Linked DNA regions of Homo sapiens. The protein of the gene in region 3 purifies or fractionates together with the protein of the main gene of each other region. This does not show direct contact. Each region holds a gene or a part of one and is shown on either strand. Other genes may lie near its edges.

Region 1 (4,729 bases), on a different chromosome or scaffold from region 3:
GAAATGGAGGCAGGGCCGGGCGCAGTGGCTCACGCCTGTAATCCCAGCACTTTGGGAGGCCGAGGCGGGCGGATCATGAGGTCAGGAGATCGAGACCATCCTGGCTAACACGGTGAAACCCCATCTCCACTAAAAATACAAAAAATTAGCCGGGCGCGGTGGCGGGCACCTGTAGTCCCAGCTACTCAGGAGGCTGAGGCGGGAGGATGGTGTGAACCCAGGAGGCGGAGCTTGCAGTGAGCTGAGATAGTGCCACTGCAGTCCGGCCTGGGCGAAAGAGCGAGACTCCGTCTCAAAAAAAGAAAAAAAAAAAAGAAATGGAGGGAGAAGGAAGACAAATAAGACTAAATGAACTTTGGTAGCAAGTTCTTGACTGAATAGTAATTCACAACATCTCTGAATTCAGTAGTCATTACAATTTTAGGAATAATTTATTGGGAGAATAACAGTATCAATGAAGCAAGAGTAAATAAGAAGTATGTTTAAGAAAATACCAAAACCATTGCACCCCACCAGAATGAGTAAGTTGAAGAGAACAATAGTACCAAGTTTTGGCAAGATGAGGAGCAGAAAGAACTCACGTATGGTGGGTTGTATAAATGTAGATGGTAATACAAAATGGTACAACCACTTTGGAAAACTGTTCAGTGGTTCCTAATAAAGTCATAAATATAACATGACTTCCTGTGTTATATGCCCAGTAGAAATGGATGTATTTGTCCATCGCAGAAATATACTGTATACAGTTTAAGAATATTATTTGTAATAAGTCAGAACTAGAAATAACCCAACTATGTATCAGCAGTAGAATGGATAAATACATTGAGGCATGCTTACAGAAAACAGCACAGCTATGAGAAAGAATAAACTTCTGATACATGCAACAATGGGGATGAATCTCACAAATGTACTTTTTTTTTTTTTTTTTTTGAGACAGCATCTCGCTCTGTCACCCATACTGGAGTGCAGTAGCAGGATCTTGGCTCACTGCAACCTCCGCCTCCCCAGTTCAAGCGATTCTTGTGCCTCAGCCTCCTGAGTAGCTGGGATTACAGGCATGTGCCACCACGCCCAGCTAATTTTTTGTATTTTTAGTAGAGACAGGGTTTTGCCATGTTGGCTAGATTGGTATTGAACTCTTGACCTCAAGTGATCCACCCGCCGTGGCCTCCCAAAGTGCTGGGATTACAGGCATGAGCCACCATGCCTGGCCTCACAGATGTACTTTTGAGCAAAAGAAGACAAACACTCTGAAAGAGAACCTTTATGATTCTGTTTATGTGAAGCTCAAAATCAGGCTCAAATAATCTTTCATGATAGATGTCAGAATAATAACTACCTGTAGGAGGACACAATGGAGCCTTTTGAGGTGTTGGAAATAGTCTGTCTTGTTTTGAGTGGTGGTCACATGGGTGAATTGATATGTAAAATTTCAGGGAGGTGTACACTTAAAATATGTAGACTGACTTACTGTATATGTTATACCTTGATAGAAAAGTAGAAAATAAAAGACAAGATTGGTTCCTTGTAGCTCCTGTATCTCCTGTACTTCTTTTGACGTGGAGGTGTTAGCTGTATAATTGATGGAGCCCCTTCCCTAGTCCGATTAGGAACCCAGTTGATGGGCACTGTACTTGTTTTAGATTTACTGTTTTCTGTAAATAGCATAATTTTCTTTATAGAATAAACCTGTTTGAGGAGTTTTGAATAATGCTATTTTACCAAGGGAAGTTTCTGAGGAAAGGGAAGTTTGTTACACATTCAGTGGTTATATTTTTAAAAGTTTCTATTAATATTAACTACATAGAAGAACACTTATAAACGAGTATCCACATTTTCAAAGTGTTAAAAATTCTATTCAGTTACTACTACCATAATATAAACTTGAATGCACAACATCAGTGTCTTAAAGATATATGTTAAATAAAACAGTAAAAGCCTTTTCATATCTGGTTAATTTCTGGTGCTTTTTATTCTGCATCTATCTAAGCATCTGAGTAGAATTATGATGGATTATAAATGATAGGAAAGGAAACTCATGCTTTTGTGACATTAGGCAAAGGTTGATCAGGAAGGGAAAAGAAGCCTAAAATGTGTGTATTTTGTGCTTTTTTACCATCATCATTATTGTTGAAATTGTGTTGCATTGAAAATTTACCCAAGGGCCAGGCACAGTGGCTCATGCCTGTAATCCTAGTGCAGAGGCTGAGGTGAGCAGATCACCAGAAGGCAGGAGTTCGAGATCAGTCTGGCCAACATGGTGAAACCCCATCTCTACTAAAAATACAAAAATTAGCTGGGTGTGGTGGCGGGCGCCTGTAGTCCCAGCTACTCAGGAGGCTGAGGAAGGAGAATTGCCTGATTGAACCTGGGAGGCAGAAGTTGCAGTGAGCCAAGATTGCGCCACTGCACTCTAGCCTGGGCGACAGAGCAAGGCTCTGTTTCATTCTATAATAAATGTAACAAAAAAAAGCCTGTATGAGCCTGCTAATTCATTGTTCTTTTAATCTTCGGTTCTGTCCGCATAGTTTTATGATACTGGCTCAGTTAGATCACTAGAGAACTATCTAGAGTTTGATTAATCCCTAGAGCTGGACTCTTTCAGACTTAGTGTTTCTAATGGGGCATACTGTTTTTTGTTTTTTTTTTTGAGACAGGGTCTTGCTGTGTTGCCCAGCCTGGTCTTGAATTCCTGGACTCAAGTGATGCTCCTGCCTTGGCTTCCCAAACTCCTGGAATTACAACTGTGAGCCACTGCACCCAGCCAGGAGTGCTTTATTTTTATTTATTTTTTATTTTTTTCTAGACGGAGTCTTGCTCTGTTGCCCAGGCTGGAGTGCAGTGGTGCGGTGTCGGCTCACTGCAGGCTCCGCCTCTTGGGTTCAAGCAGTTATCCTGTCAGCCTCCTGAGTAGCTGGGATTACAGGTGCATGCCACCATGCCGTCCACGTCGGCCTCCCAAAGTGCTGGGATTATAGGCGTGAGCCATTGCGGCTGGCCTGGAGGAGTGCTGTATATGCTTTTTTGCCCCTTTCCCTTCATTTATGTATTTATTTTGAGACAAAGTCTTGCTCTTGTTAGCAGGCTGGAGTGCAGTGGCGCAATTTCTGCTCACTGTATCCTCTGCGTCTTGGGTTCAAGTGGTTTTCCCACCTCAGCCTCCTAAATAGCTGGGATTACAGGCACCCACCACCACACCTGGCTAATTTTTGTATTTTTAGTAGAGATGGGGTTTCACCATGTTGGCCAGGCTGGTCTCAAACTCCTCAGGTGATCCACCTGCCTCGGCCTCTGAAAGTGCTGGGATTATAGGAGTGAGCCACCGTGGCTGGCCTATTTAATTTTTTTTGAGATGGAGTCTTGTTCTTGTTGCCCAGGCTGGAGTGCAATGGTGTGATCTCAGCTCACTGCAACCTTCGCCTCCCAATTTCAAGTGACTCCCCTGCCTCAGCCTCCCAAGTAGCTGGGATTACAGGCATGCACCACCATGCCCGGCTAATTTTTTTTTTTTGAGACCGAGTCTTGTTCTCGTTGCCCAGGCTGGAGTGCAATGGCACGATCTCAGCCCACTGCATCCTCCGCCTCCCGGGTTCAAGCGATTCTCCTGCTTCAGCCTCCTGAGTAACTGGGATTACAGGAACATGCCACCGCATTTGGCTAATTTTTGTATTTTTAGTAGAGATGGGGTTTCACCTTGTTGGTCAGGCTGGTCTCGAACTCCTGACCTTGTGATCCACCTGCCTCAGCCTTCCAAAGTGCTGGGATTACAGGCGTGAGCCACTGCGCCCGGCCAATTTTGTATTTTTAGTAGATATGGGGTTTCATCATGTTGGTCAGGCTGGTCTCGAACTCCTGACCTCATGTGATCCACCTGCCTTGGCATCCCAAACTGCTGGAATTATAAACGTGAGCCCCCACACTCAGTCAGGACATACTCTTTTACCAGAGGGGTGCTTTATATGCTTTTTTGCTCCTTTATGTCTGAAATTAGTATTTGAAAACAGTTTCAAGTGCTGGTTTCTTTTTTTAATGTAAAAACACTGAACCAGTGTTTCACTTTGTGCTTAACATGTGTATTTATATTCATCTGCTATCATCTGCTAGCTGTTTTCTGACTTCCTCGTGTGAGTGGGGAAGTGTTAGGTTTCATACCTTATATAGGATTTTGCATAGAGTATGCCCAAGGATACTGTATTTTTTAGAACCATTTTCAAAAAGAGCCAAGACATTTAGATATAAACATGTAGGTACTCTAGATTTTGAGTAACTTCTGTCACGTTTATTATTTCTAATTCATTCATCGATTGATTAAATATTTATTGACTTCTTCCACTCTAGGCACTCTTATTGACTGAACAAGACTATGTCATTTGTCCTATTCTAGTGGGGTGACACACACACTATCTATCTATCTATCTATATACTTTTTGTTTTGAGACAGGGTCTCACTCTGTCATCTAGGCTGGGGTGCAGTGGCCTGATCATGGCTCATTGCAGCCTTGACCTTCCGGGCTCAAGTGGTCCTCCTGTCTCAGCATTCTGAGTAGCTGTAGCTTGTATTACAGGCATGTGCCACCAAGCCTGGCTAGTTTTTTTAATTTTTTTGCAGAGATGGGGTCTCCCTATGTTGCCTAGGCTGGTCTCAAACTTCTGGACTCAAGCCATCTGCCCACCTTAGCCTCCCAGAATGCTGAGATTACAGGCATGAACCACCATGCCTGACCAACAC
Region 2 (4,729 bases), about 45 Mb from region 3:
TAGACATCTCCATGCGTGTAGGAACAGTGTCTATCTTATCAGTATATTCCCTCTGTCTAGTAGAGTGTCCAACACATAGGAGATACTCAATAAATAATTGTGGAAGAGTTATTGATATAGTATAAAGTCTTAATTTTTTTTTAGGTTAAAGAAAGACCTGATGTGGGAGTTTATATCAAAGATTTATCAGCTTATGTGGTAAATAATGCTGATGATATGGATAGAATTATGACGCTAGGCCACAAAAATCGTAAGTATAGTGTGTAATTGTGATTAAGCATCTGTGTGTTGAGTAGGCTGGTTTAGAAGCAAATTTGGTATGGCACTTTACCCTGTAGAGACTGGATTTTTTAGGTTTCTTGAAAACCATTCCACTTTGATTATTTACCATGTAGAGAGCATAGATGAATGAAAGATACCACAAATCATTTTCCATGCCGAGCAAAATTTTGTTTCTTTTTAGTAGCGCCAATCTATGCAACTCTCATACGGCTGTCTCTTGGTAGCTATAATAGTAAAATTGGTAATGTTTATTGAGCTCTTAGTGGAGAGTGCTTGTGCTAAGTGCTTCATAAAGATGCTCTCTTAGTCCTCACAGGAGACTATGAAGACATTAAATTCTTACTTTATGAATGAAGAAAGTGAGACTTAGTTTAAGTAACTTGTCTAAGTACTATAACTACTAAGTGGTAGAGTGAGTGATCACACCTAAGCCATAGCCACGCACAGTGGCTCATGCCTGTAATCCCAGCAACTCGGGAGGCTGAACTGGGAGGATCATTTGAGGCCAGGAGTTTGAGACCAGCCTGGACAATAGGGAGCCCCTGTCCTAAAGAAACCCACCTGGAAGAAACCCAAAAAACCTAGGCCAGTAGTCTGCATTAACTAGGCACTGTAATGCTTCCCTTTTGTTGACAAGAAAAGCAAAACAAAATTTAAATTAAAAAATTGTATTCTTTTTAGTAATTGTGTCACATTTTTAGTCTAAAGAGTAGGAAGCTTCAGCGATATTATACAGATGCCTCAAACCTAGTACTGGTGATGCAGCTAATAGCAATTAGAAATTAGAGGTGAAAAGTCTGGTCGCGGTGGCTCACACCTGTAATCCCAGCACTTTGGGAGGCTGAGGTGGGTGGATCACTTGTTTGAGACCAGCCTGGCCAACATGGTGAAACCCCGTCTCTACTAAAAATACAAAAATTAGCTGGGAGTGGTGGTGGGTGCCTGTAATCCCAGTTACTCGGGAGGCTGTGGCAGGAGAATCGTTTTAACCAGGAAGGCAGAAGTTGCAGTGAGCCGAGATCGCGCCACTGCACTCCAACTTGGGCAACACAGCAACCAAAAAAAAAAGAAAAAAAGAGGGATTAGAGGTAAAAGATGAGAAATAGGAAATGAAAAATTTTTATAAGTTTCTGTGACTTGACGATAGATATATCAAACCCAAGGAAATCAAACAACAAAACTTCAAAAATCAATTACATTCTTATGAACCAATTAATAGAAAAAGACCAAATCTTAATAGAAAAATTAGCAAAAAATATGTATGTTATTCGTAGAAGAACTAAGCACAGCAATAAGTATGTGAAAGGCTGTTTAACTTCACAACTAATCAGGAAAATGCTAAAACAAGATAGAGAGAGATGTTTCACCCATCAGATTAGATGAAGGATATGTAGGTTGGTGAGACTTTGAAGAAATGGGCACTGAGGATGGAATATAAATTGGTGCAGCCTATTTGAAGGGCATTGTTAACAGTATCTGTTGACATTTTAAAATACATTCCTTTTGACTCTGTGTTTCTAATTTTAGACATTCTGGAAAATATTTTTAGATGTAACAATCTAAATAACCTTCAATAAAACCCTGATTATGTAAATGATGACACAAAAATACCATAGACTGTAATAAAGCTGTTAAAAACAATGAGTTAGGCTGGGTGTGGTGGCTCATGCCTGTAATCCCAACACTCTGGGAGGCCAAGGTGGGCAGATTTCCTGAACTCAGGAGTTAGAGACCAGCCTGTGCAACATGGCGAAACCCCATCTCAACTAAAAATACAAAAAAATCAGCCAGACGTGGTGGCTTACGCCTATAATCCCAGCTACTTGGGATGCTGAGGCAGCAGAATTGCTTGAACCTGGGAGGCAGAGGTTGCAGTGAGCCAAGATAGCACCACTGAACTCCAGCCTGGGCAATAGAGGAAGACTCTGTCTCAAAAACAAAACAAAACAACAACAAAAAAAACAACAAGCTGAGTGTGGTGGCTCATGCATATAATCCCAGCACTCTGGGTGGCTGAGGCGGATGGATCACTTGAGGCCAGGAGTTTGAGACCAGCCTGGCCAACCTGGTGAAACCTCGTCTCTGCTAAAAATACAAAAATTAGCTGGGCGTGGTGGTGCGCACCTGTGATCTCAGCTACTCAGGAGGTTGAGGCCGGAGGATCACTTGAACCTGGGAGGTGGAGGTTGCAGTGAGCCGAGATTGTGCCACTGCCCTCCAGCCTGGGTGACAGAGGGAGACCCTGTCTCAAACAAAACAACAAAAAAACCCAGTCAGGTAAATGTGCCTACACAGAGCTGGAAGATTTTCAAAGTATGTTTGTCAGTGGGGGGATAAAAGCAAATTGTAGAACAGTATGTATGTACTGCCTTACCCCATTTATTTATATGTGAAAAATTGTTAAACCATATATTTATTTGGGCAGTGTGTGTGTGTTTGTGTCTACACGTATGTATATAAAATACAGAATGAAAGGACAGATTGTAGTGGTTACCTTTAGAGAAGGAGAAATAAAATTGGGGAAAAGGAATGTCAGGAGCTTTCACTTTATGCTTTCTGTATGCTTTTATTAAAAAAACAAATACCAGAAATATGTTAATTATTGGTTATTTAATTAAAAATTTTAACACAAGATTTCATTCATAGAATGAAATTAATTTAATTCTCAGGTAGTTAATTGGAGCTTTTGGTCACTTCATTAAAGATTACCCTTTTAATGTTTCAATTATAAAATCAAAGCTTGCACAGAAAAATGCTGCATGAATGTATAGTAGGAAGATAATTTTGGCATTGAGTAAAATTAACTTTAAAATACTTTGGAATTTAAGAAAAAAACTAATACAGGTCTATTGTAAAAAAATGTTTTTTGTTTACACAATATATTCATATATTTACACATATGCAAATACTTTGCATATTTTGAATGGATTTTTTTTTTTTACAGAAGTAGGATTATGTTATGTATTTCTTTCTAACTTGCTTTTATTTTTAATTTATATGTTATGGACATTTTTCCACGTTTTTAGATCTACCTTATTTTTTTTAATGCTGCACTGAATATTGTTGTATTGTCTAACATATGTGTGCAAGTATTCCTGTGGTTTATATGTTCAAGCTGGAGTGCAGTGGCGCAATCTCAGCTCACTGCAACCTCCACCTCTCGGATTCAAGTGATTCTTGTGCCTCAGCCTCCCAAGTAGCTAAAATTCTCTTTATTATTATTGTTTTTTACTTCCTGCAGTACACCAGCATGCATACTTCTCTTTAGATAGCTAAATCAGCAATAATTTTTCCAATTAATGTGGTTTTTTGGTGTAAATTAGTTATTTTTTAGGCAGTATTACTAGGGATTGAAATTATTTTTTGCTAAAGTTATGTCTTTAATATGAGAAACCTTACAAATTTGTTATCAACAAAGTATAAGAGAAATTTCATGTAGTGGCTAAGTACACACCCATGCCTTTATGGTTTAGCCATGCTCTCTGGCTTTTGATTGTGATAAAATTAAGTGTTTTAAACTGTTCAGGATGTTTAATTATTTTTAAAGGCACTCTCTGTTACACTTTTAAAGGATTTCGTTTATTTATTAAAGGTTCTGTTGGTGCAACTAATATGAACGAACATAGTTCCCGTTCCCATGCCATCTTTACAATTACTATAGAATGCAGTGAAAAAGGCATTGATGGTAACATGCATGTCAGGATGGGGAAGCTCCATCTTGTAGATCTTGCTGTAAGTAACAGGACACTGCTTAAGGAATAACTCTTTCTTGTGATCCATTTATTTTATAAATGAATGAAAATTAAAGTGAAAAGGTATGATTTACATATGATTTTTAAGGTGTTACTTGTGTATGTTTATTATTTATTATGGAACATTTCAAATGTATATGAAAGTAGATAGAATAGTATAGTGATCCCCCATACACTGATCACCCAACTCCCAACAATCAGCTCATGGCTAATCTTGTTTCATGTACTCTCCCCCACTTCTTCCTTTCCTATATTATTTTGAAGTGAATTCAGGCATCATATCAGGTTTTTTACTGTTACATTACTTTTTAATAAAACCTTGGGAAGAATATTCTATTTTTAAAAAAATTTTAGCTTTACTTTCATCTCTGTTTATTGCTAGGGTTCAGAAAGACAGGCAAAAACTGGAGCTACTGGACAGCGCCTAAAGGAAGCTACAAAAATCAATCTTTCACTTTCCACCCTTGGTAATGTAATTTCTGCCTTGGTTGATGGAAAAAGCACTCATGTGCCTTATCGTAACTCTAAACTGACTCGTCTTCTTCAGGATTCCTTAGGAGGAAATTCAAAAACCATGATGGTAAGACTTAATTGGTGATATAGTTAACATCAGGCAAATTTAAGATTGTAATTTATGCCAATAATTGATACGTATCACATTTTTTAAACTTGATTATTTTACTTTTTTTGACTTG
Region 3 (5,439 bases):
TGGACACGCTGCAGAGTTGAATTTCCCAAGCTCTTGGTCTTTTAAGTGCAAGAGGCACATGTGAACTCGGGGATGAGTGGAAGGTTAATGCCATGAGCTAGTACACTGAATTTGTCACAAAGCCCTGGTATAATTTCTTGCTAGGCCAAGTTATTCCAGCAATTCTGTGTGCATGTGGGAGAATGAAAAGCTATTCAGATCCCAAACACTATCGTTATCAGATGGTCTCAATGGTCAGCTAACCCAGGGTTTGTTTGAGTAGGTACATTGCACAGTGGGCTTTAGTGTGATCATTAATGTAAAACACACACAGTCCTCAGGCTTTTGGTCTAGAATGGTGAAATCATTCCTCAGCTCCTTTTCAAAAGCAGACAATAATCAGTGGCATATTCTATTGTATTTAATGAAATAATCATCAGGCAGGATACCTGCCCCACACTAGTTGCAGAGGAGGTGAGAACAGACCCTGCTTCAGTGCAAGGTGAACTCAGCAAAGGGAGTGGGGCTGCTCCAGAGTCCAGGTGGTCCTTGCAACTCTCCTGTGTGATGTATAAGACATCACTTTGCCTTTTCTCTGAGATAGTCTTGGAATTGTTAGTCCTAAACTCTGTTTTGCTTTACTTATGTGTAGATGAATCCTGGCCATGGCTGGTCACGGAGGGGAAGGACTATGTCCTCCTCGTTCCTTCTCATCCCAGAGCTTAGCCCTGGGCAGCCCATCTTGGGCCCCAGTAATGTTCCAATGCTTCCAAACCCTTTGCTGAGATCCAGCACCAGTGTGAAAAGGCTTCCTGCTCATCTCCTTCAATCTGTTGTTTCTCATAGTAATTTAGAAACCTTAGTGGATTCTGATCCAAGGTCACAGGAGAATAGGGTGGGCTCCTGAAGTCAATGAAGTGTCCCCCTCATCTCTACCCTGGCTACTTTGGTTCAGCTTTTCTCCTTGCAGAAGAGGCTGTTTTTCTGTTTACGAGTCCTCCTTTGCTGGACCAGGCTTTTTTATTTTTGTTGTGGCATCCCTGCACTTCACAGGGGGCCTGGAGCTTGTTCCTGTGCCCCTGAAGTACCCATCCATGAATGATCAGATCACAGCAGCAAACCACTCTGCCAGGAATCACCAGGGGGGAGAGTCACATCTTCCTCATCTTTGGGTTTAGACCTGTGCATTCCAGTATGGTCCTCAGTGGCATATGTGCCCATTCATGTTAAAATAAATGAAAAAATTCATAACCTCCTCACAAGAGCCATGCTAGAAGTTCCCAGTTGCCAAAAGTCTACTCTTAAGAGAGCATCTCCATTCTCCCAGAATCACCTGGGAAGCAGCTGCTGTGAGTCTGGCCCAGGTTCTGTTCTCTGCACCCACCTAACTCAGTGCATTTGCATCAAGGCTGGAATCTCAGGTTCTCAGATTGGAGGTAAGAGATGCTATGAGCCAGTGTCGGTGAACAGTTGAAAGGGATTATTTCAGGTCCTCTGTCTTACCTGAAGGCTCACAACTGTGAGCAGTGCCTTCATAAAGGCCCCTGAGTTCACAGAGCCCAGGGAGAATCACAGTGGACAGAGCAGTAGTACTAATGTTTGTGTCTCTGTACATGGGCTCATGGGCACCACCTCTGGATCCATCCAGGAGGAAATAGACTGGTCAGGTAGGGACCAACACTCCAGGGTTGACCAGTGAGACAGGGTTCTTGGGAATTGGGTTACACTTATTTTGGAGCCTAGGATGGGATCAGTGAAGTGACTAAATATGAAACAGGTGTAGAAGTCTGACTTGGGATTTTTTGTATCTTAATGAGAAAGTCCTAAGAGTTTTGTTCTCATGGGCTTTGTGCGAGTTGTGTATGTCACCATCATTTCTTGCTCTGGTGTTTAAATATTACATTTTGCAGAAGACCAGATCATTCCTGCCTTTGCCACAGTAAGCACCAGAGCCCTGGGTTTTGATGAGGTAGCATTTTTTTGTGAATAGAGATCACAAGATGAGTATGCAGGTGTAAAGTTGAGTGTGGGGTGGGACACAGCCCCACATAGGCGCTACGTGATCCTGAAGACAAAGTCCTTCATACGTGTGCCAGGAGGTGAAAGGAGCCCACTGTCTTTCTCTACACTCTTGGGACCTGCAACAGCACCTTCCTGTCCTGTCCTCACTGTCTGCTCCTGCTCTAAGGGTGCTCCCTGGGTCGGATGACACAGGGAATCCTTCCTCTGGGATTCCTACGTGTGCCCCAGCATCCTGGAGTCCTGAGGGCAGAACACATGATTGAGCACAGTTTTGGCCTCCACTCCTCACCCAATCCCATCCAATCCCAAATCCCTGTGCTTTGAATGAAACCTAAATTGGCTTTCACTGGAGAGGCCCAAGTCTAGCTGTTGCTCAGGGCCCTCTGTGGCTGGCAGGAATCCTAAGGGATATGTGTGGAGGGGCTGCTGTGTTGCTGTAGGCAGTGGCTCTCACCCTCCCTGTAGCCTGGTCCCTGGAATCCACTGGGCCCAGGGCAGAGCCTCTGGGCAGCTGGCACAGTAGTCACTTGTCTTGTCACACCCTCCTCTCTGGCTCAGCAGCCTTGTCCTTCTCCCCACACTCCAGTCAGGCCCAGATTGTTCTCTGTGTCAGGTCTTCCAGGTACCTTCCCTCCTAGTCTTCCCACAGCTCAGGCAAACCCTGGGAGGGTCCCCTCATTTCTGTGCTGGCAACTGCTGGCCTCACTTGCAGATTAAGGCAACTGGGACAAGGAGCTTTACCTTGAATTCTGTTCCATTGTTTCCAAATATTCAGAAGCTGCTGGGATTCTTTTGAGGGCTGAATATTTTCCAAGTCTCTAAGGTCACTCCAGGCATAGAACAGTCACTGTATAAGTGACATCGGCCATCATCACCTCCCGCAGGCCCCAACACAACCCCAGGCCTGTGGGAGGTGCTGCTGACCCAGGGTGCGATCCGTGGGTTGATTGGAGGCCCTGGCAGTGCAGCCTTGACCTTCTTTCCAGTGTTCTTATTTTGGAGAACAGTAGGACTGGTGGAGGTCCACAGGGTGAAAGGAAATGGGATTCATGCGGGAACAGAAACAGGCCCTACAGGAGGAGAAGGGAGGGAACTCCATGTCACGCACAACGTTGTGAAGAGGGCGCTGCCTCTTGGAGGAACAGAATGACACGGCTTCCCCTCCCTTGGCTCAGTTATGGAATGTGAGGGCTGGGAAAGTACATGGGAAGTCAGAGGTCCCTCCCTCATAGCACAGAGGAAATGATACAGGCTGTGGAGAAGGCTCCAGAAATGAGCACATCAGAGGCTCTGGGGTTGGCTCCACAGCCCCAGGACAGCGGGGTCTGAGTGGTTCTCTCGACTCTAACTCTCCCCTTTCCTTCTTATGGCCACCCCATCACCGCTGCTCCTCCGGACACTCTGATGCTTGCTTCACAGAATTGGAAGACTCCACCATTACAGGCAGCCACCAGCAGGTAATTGATCTCCTCTTATATGCTGGCTGTCTTTTATCCTCTTTCTGACTCATGAGCTCCTTTTTTAGCTCTAGTCCTTTTCCTCTTTCCCTCTCTTGTGATTGTTCTCCTGAAGGACCTGGTCTCATCCCACAGTTGAGGTCCTCGGGTCTTCAGTGTCGATAAAATCCCTCTCCAGCCCTCCTGCCCACTGCCTTGGCATTGCCCTGTTTACTGGCCCCCAGGTTGCAGCTTTGAATCTTGCTGAACAACCCTACAGGGTCCAGGGGAGGGGGCTGGGCTGGGGTCAGAAGAGCTGGACCCCACCCTGCTGGAGGGACCCCCCAGTGACATCTGGGTCTGCTCTGGACACCGCCTTCACAGATAGGTCTTTTCCTGCACTGGCGTCTCTGGACATGCACAATTGTTCTCTTCCTCACAGATGTCAGCAAGTCCTTCCTCTGCACCTGCAGAAGAAGCAACAGAAAAGACCAAAGTGGAAGAGGAAGTGTGAGTGTGCAGTGGGCAGAATGATGAGGGAAGTGGGCACGTGCCCATGTTCTTCTTGGCTACGCTCACTTTCTTGTTGTCCCATCAGGAAAACCAGAAAGCCCAAGAAGAAAACCAGGAAGCCCAGCAAGAAAAGCCGGTGGAATGTCCTGAAATGTTGGGACATTTTTAATATATTTTAGAGACCTCTGAAGGCAAGTGAAGGATGCCCTGAGAACATGCTCCAGGAAACAGACACCCACTCCATAGCAGCCCCTGAGCCTGCTGGGCTGAGCCCTCCACAGGCTGCTTAGTGAGGGAGACACTGAGGTGCTGGTCGCACCCCCATGTGCAGGACTCCAAGGGCTTTGCACTGTGTTGTCTGCAGTAACTCTTCAGCTCACCAACATCTCATTTGGGGGGACCTAGCTCTGTCTTCCCAGCCCCTTGAGGACAACAGGGAGCATCACTAGTTCATCCTGAGGAGACACTAGGGTTGACATGAATCCCCCTGGTTCAGGCCTCCTGGGAAAGGTGTGAGAGGGATGGAGGCACCCCCAGGCTCCTTGTCACACAAGCGAGCAGCCCACCCGACCCAGTATTGCAGGCCAGCAGGCCCTCAGTAGGTCCTGGTGTCAAGCAGGGGACACGGCAGGATCCAAGAAGCACTGAAATGTGTCCAGTCCCAGGAGTCCTTCAGCCTCTGGGGGGTCTGGGGGCCTCCAGTTCCAGGGGTCCTTCAGCCTCTGTGGGGGCCTGGGGTGGCCTCATGGCCCCCTTTTTCAAGATGAGGTTGGAGGCTTCTGTATGTAGAGGGCACTGGCTTGGGCCAAATGCCAACAAAACAAACCCTTGAAGACATTTCAGGGCCATGCTCACTTGGGAGGGTTTGAGGACATGATTTAGCGAGCCTCTGTTTTTTAAATATATTTTCCAATCTTGAAATAAGGTACACATATGAATGTGTGTGTGTGTGTGTGTACATATACACTGTTTTTCACTTTCAAATGTATGTCTTCTGTAACCCTTTTATGCTAGAATATACAAACATGAGAAATTTGTGTCTTACCAAAGCATAATTTTAAAAATTACAAAGCAAAGACAGGTCCGGTGGGGATGCTAGAAAGACCAGGTCTTATTAGGCAATAACAATGACATGCTCCAGGAAGCTATGCATGTTCAACGTGCAGCTCTTCTCCAGGAAGCTATGCATGTTCAACGTGCAGCTCTTCTCCAGGAAGCTATGCATGTTCAACGTGCAGCTCTTCTCCAGGAAGCTATGCATATTCAACGTGCAGCTCTTCCGTCTGGATGGCACAGAGGATCTGGGTGGCAAGGCAGGGTCACCACCCCCACCCTGTGTCATGAGACCTCCTGCTCCTCTTAGGGCCCAGGGGCATGGGACTCTGCCTGTTGATCCTGGTATGCTTGAAATTCCGTTTCTGTGTGTCTGTTTTACCCTCCGGGGAACCAGCCCCCTGAAGGTGCCCGTGTGAGCGCCCAGGTTCATTCT

The links. Proteins that work in one complex are often made in the same cells at the same time.
Region 1: the proteins of FAM153A (region 3) and EDC3 purify together in Homo sapiens (affinity purification with mass spectrometry; one large-scale study listed by BioGRID and IntAct). This does not show direct contact.
Region 2: the proteins of FAM153A (region 3) and KIF3A purify together in Homo sapiens (affinity purification with mass spectrometry; one large-scale study listed by BioGRID and IntAct). This does not show direct contact.

The regions. Positions count from the first base shown.
Region 1 is NC_000015.10:74,685,108-74,689,836, reverse strand, and holds part of EDC3 (enhancer of mRNA-decapping protein 3), read left to right. Parts: intron 1-2,657; exon of another isoform or gene 2,658-2,746; intron 2,747-4,729. UniProt on the Homo sapiens protein: Binds single-stranded RNA. Involved in the process of mRNA degradation and in the positive regulation of mRNA decapping. May play a role in spermiogenesis and oogenesis.
Region 2 is NC_000005.10:132,716,130-132,720,858, reverse strand, and holds part of KIF3A (kinesin-like protein KIF3A), read left to right. Parts: intron 1-144; coding exon 145-250; intron 251-3,874; coding exon 3,875-4,014; intron 4,015-4,416; coding exon 4,417-4,614; intron 4,615-4,729. UniProt on the Homo sapiens protein: Microtubule-based anterograde translocator for membranous organelles. Plus end-directed microtubule sliding activity in vitro. Plays a role in primary cilia formation. Plays a role in centriole cohesion and subdistal appendage organization and function.
Region 3 is NC_000005.10:177,722,803-177,728,241, reverse strand, and holds the end of FAM153A (protein FAM153A), read left to right. Parts: intron 1-3,420; coding exon 3,421-3,458; intron 3,459-3,879; coding exon 3,880-3,947; intron 3,948-4,035; coding exon 4,036-4,129; 3' UTR 4,130-4,878; downstream 4,879-5,439.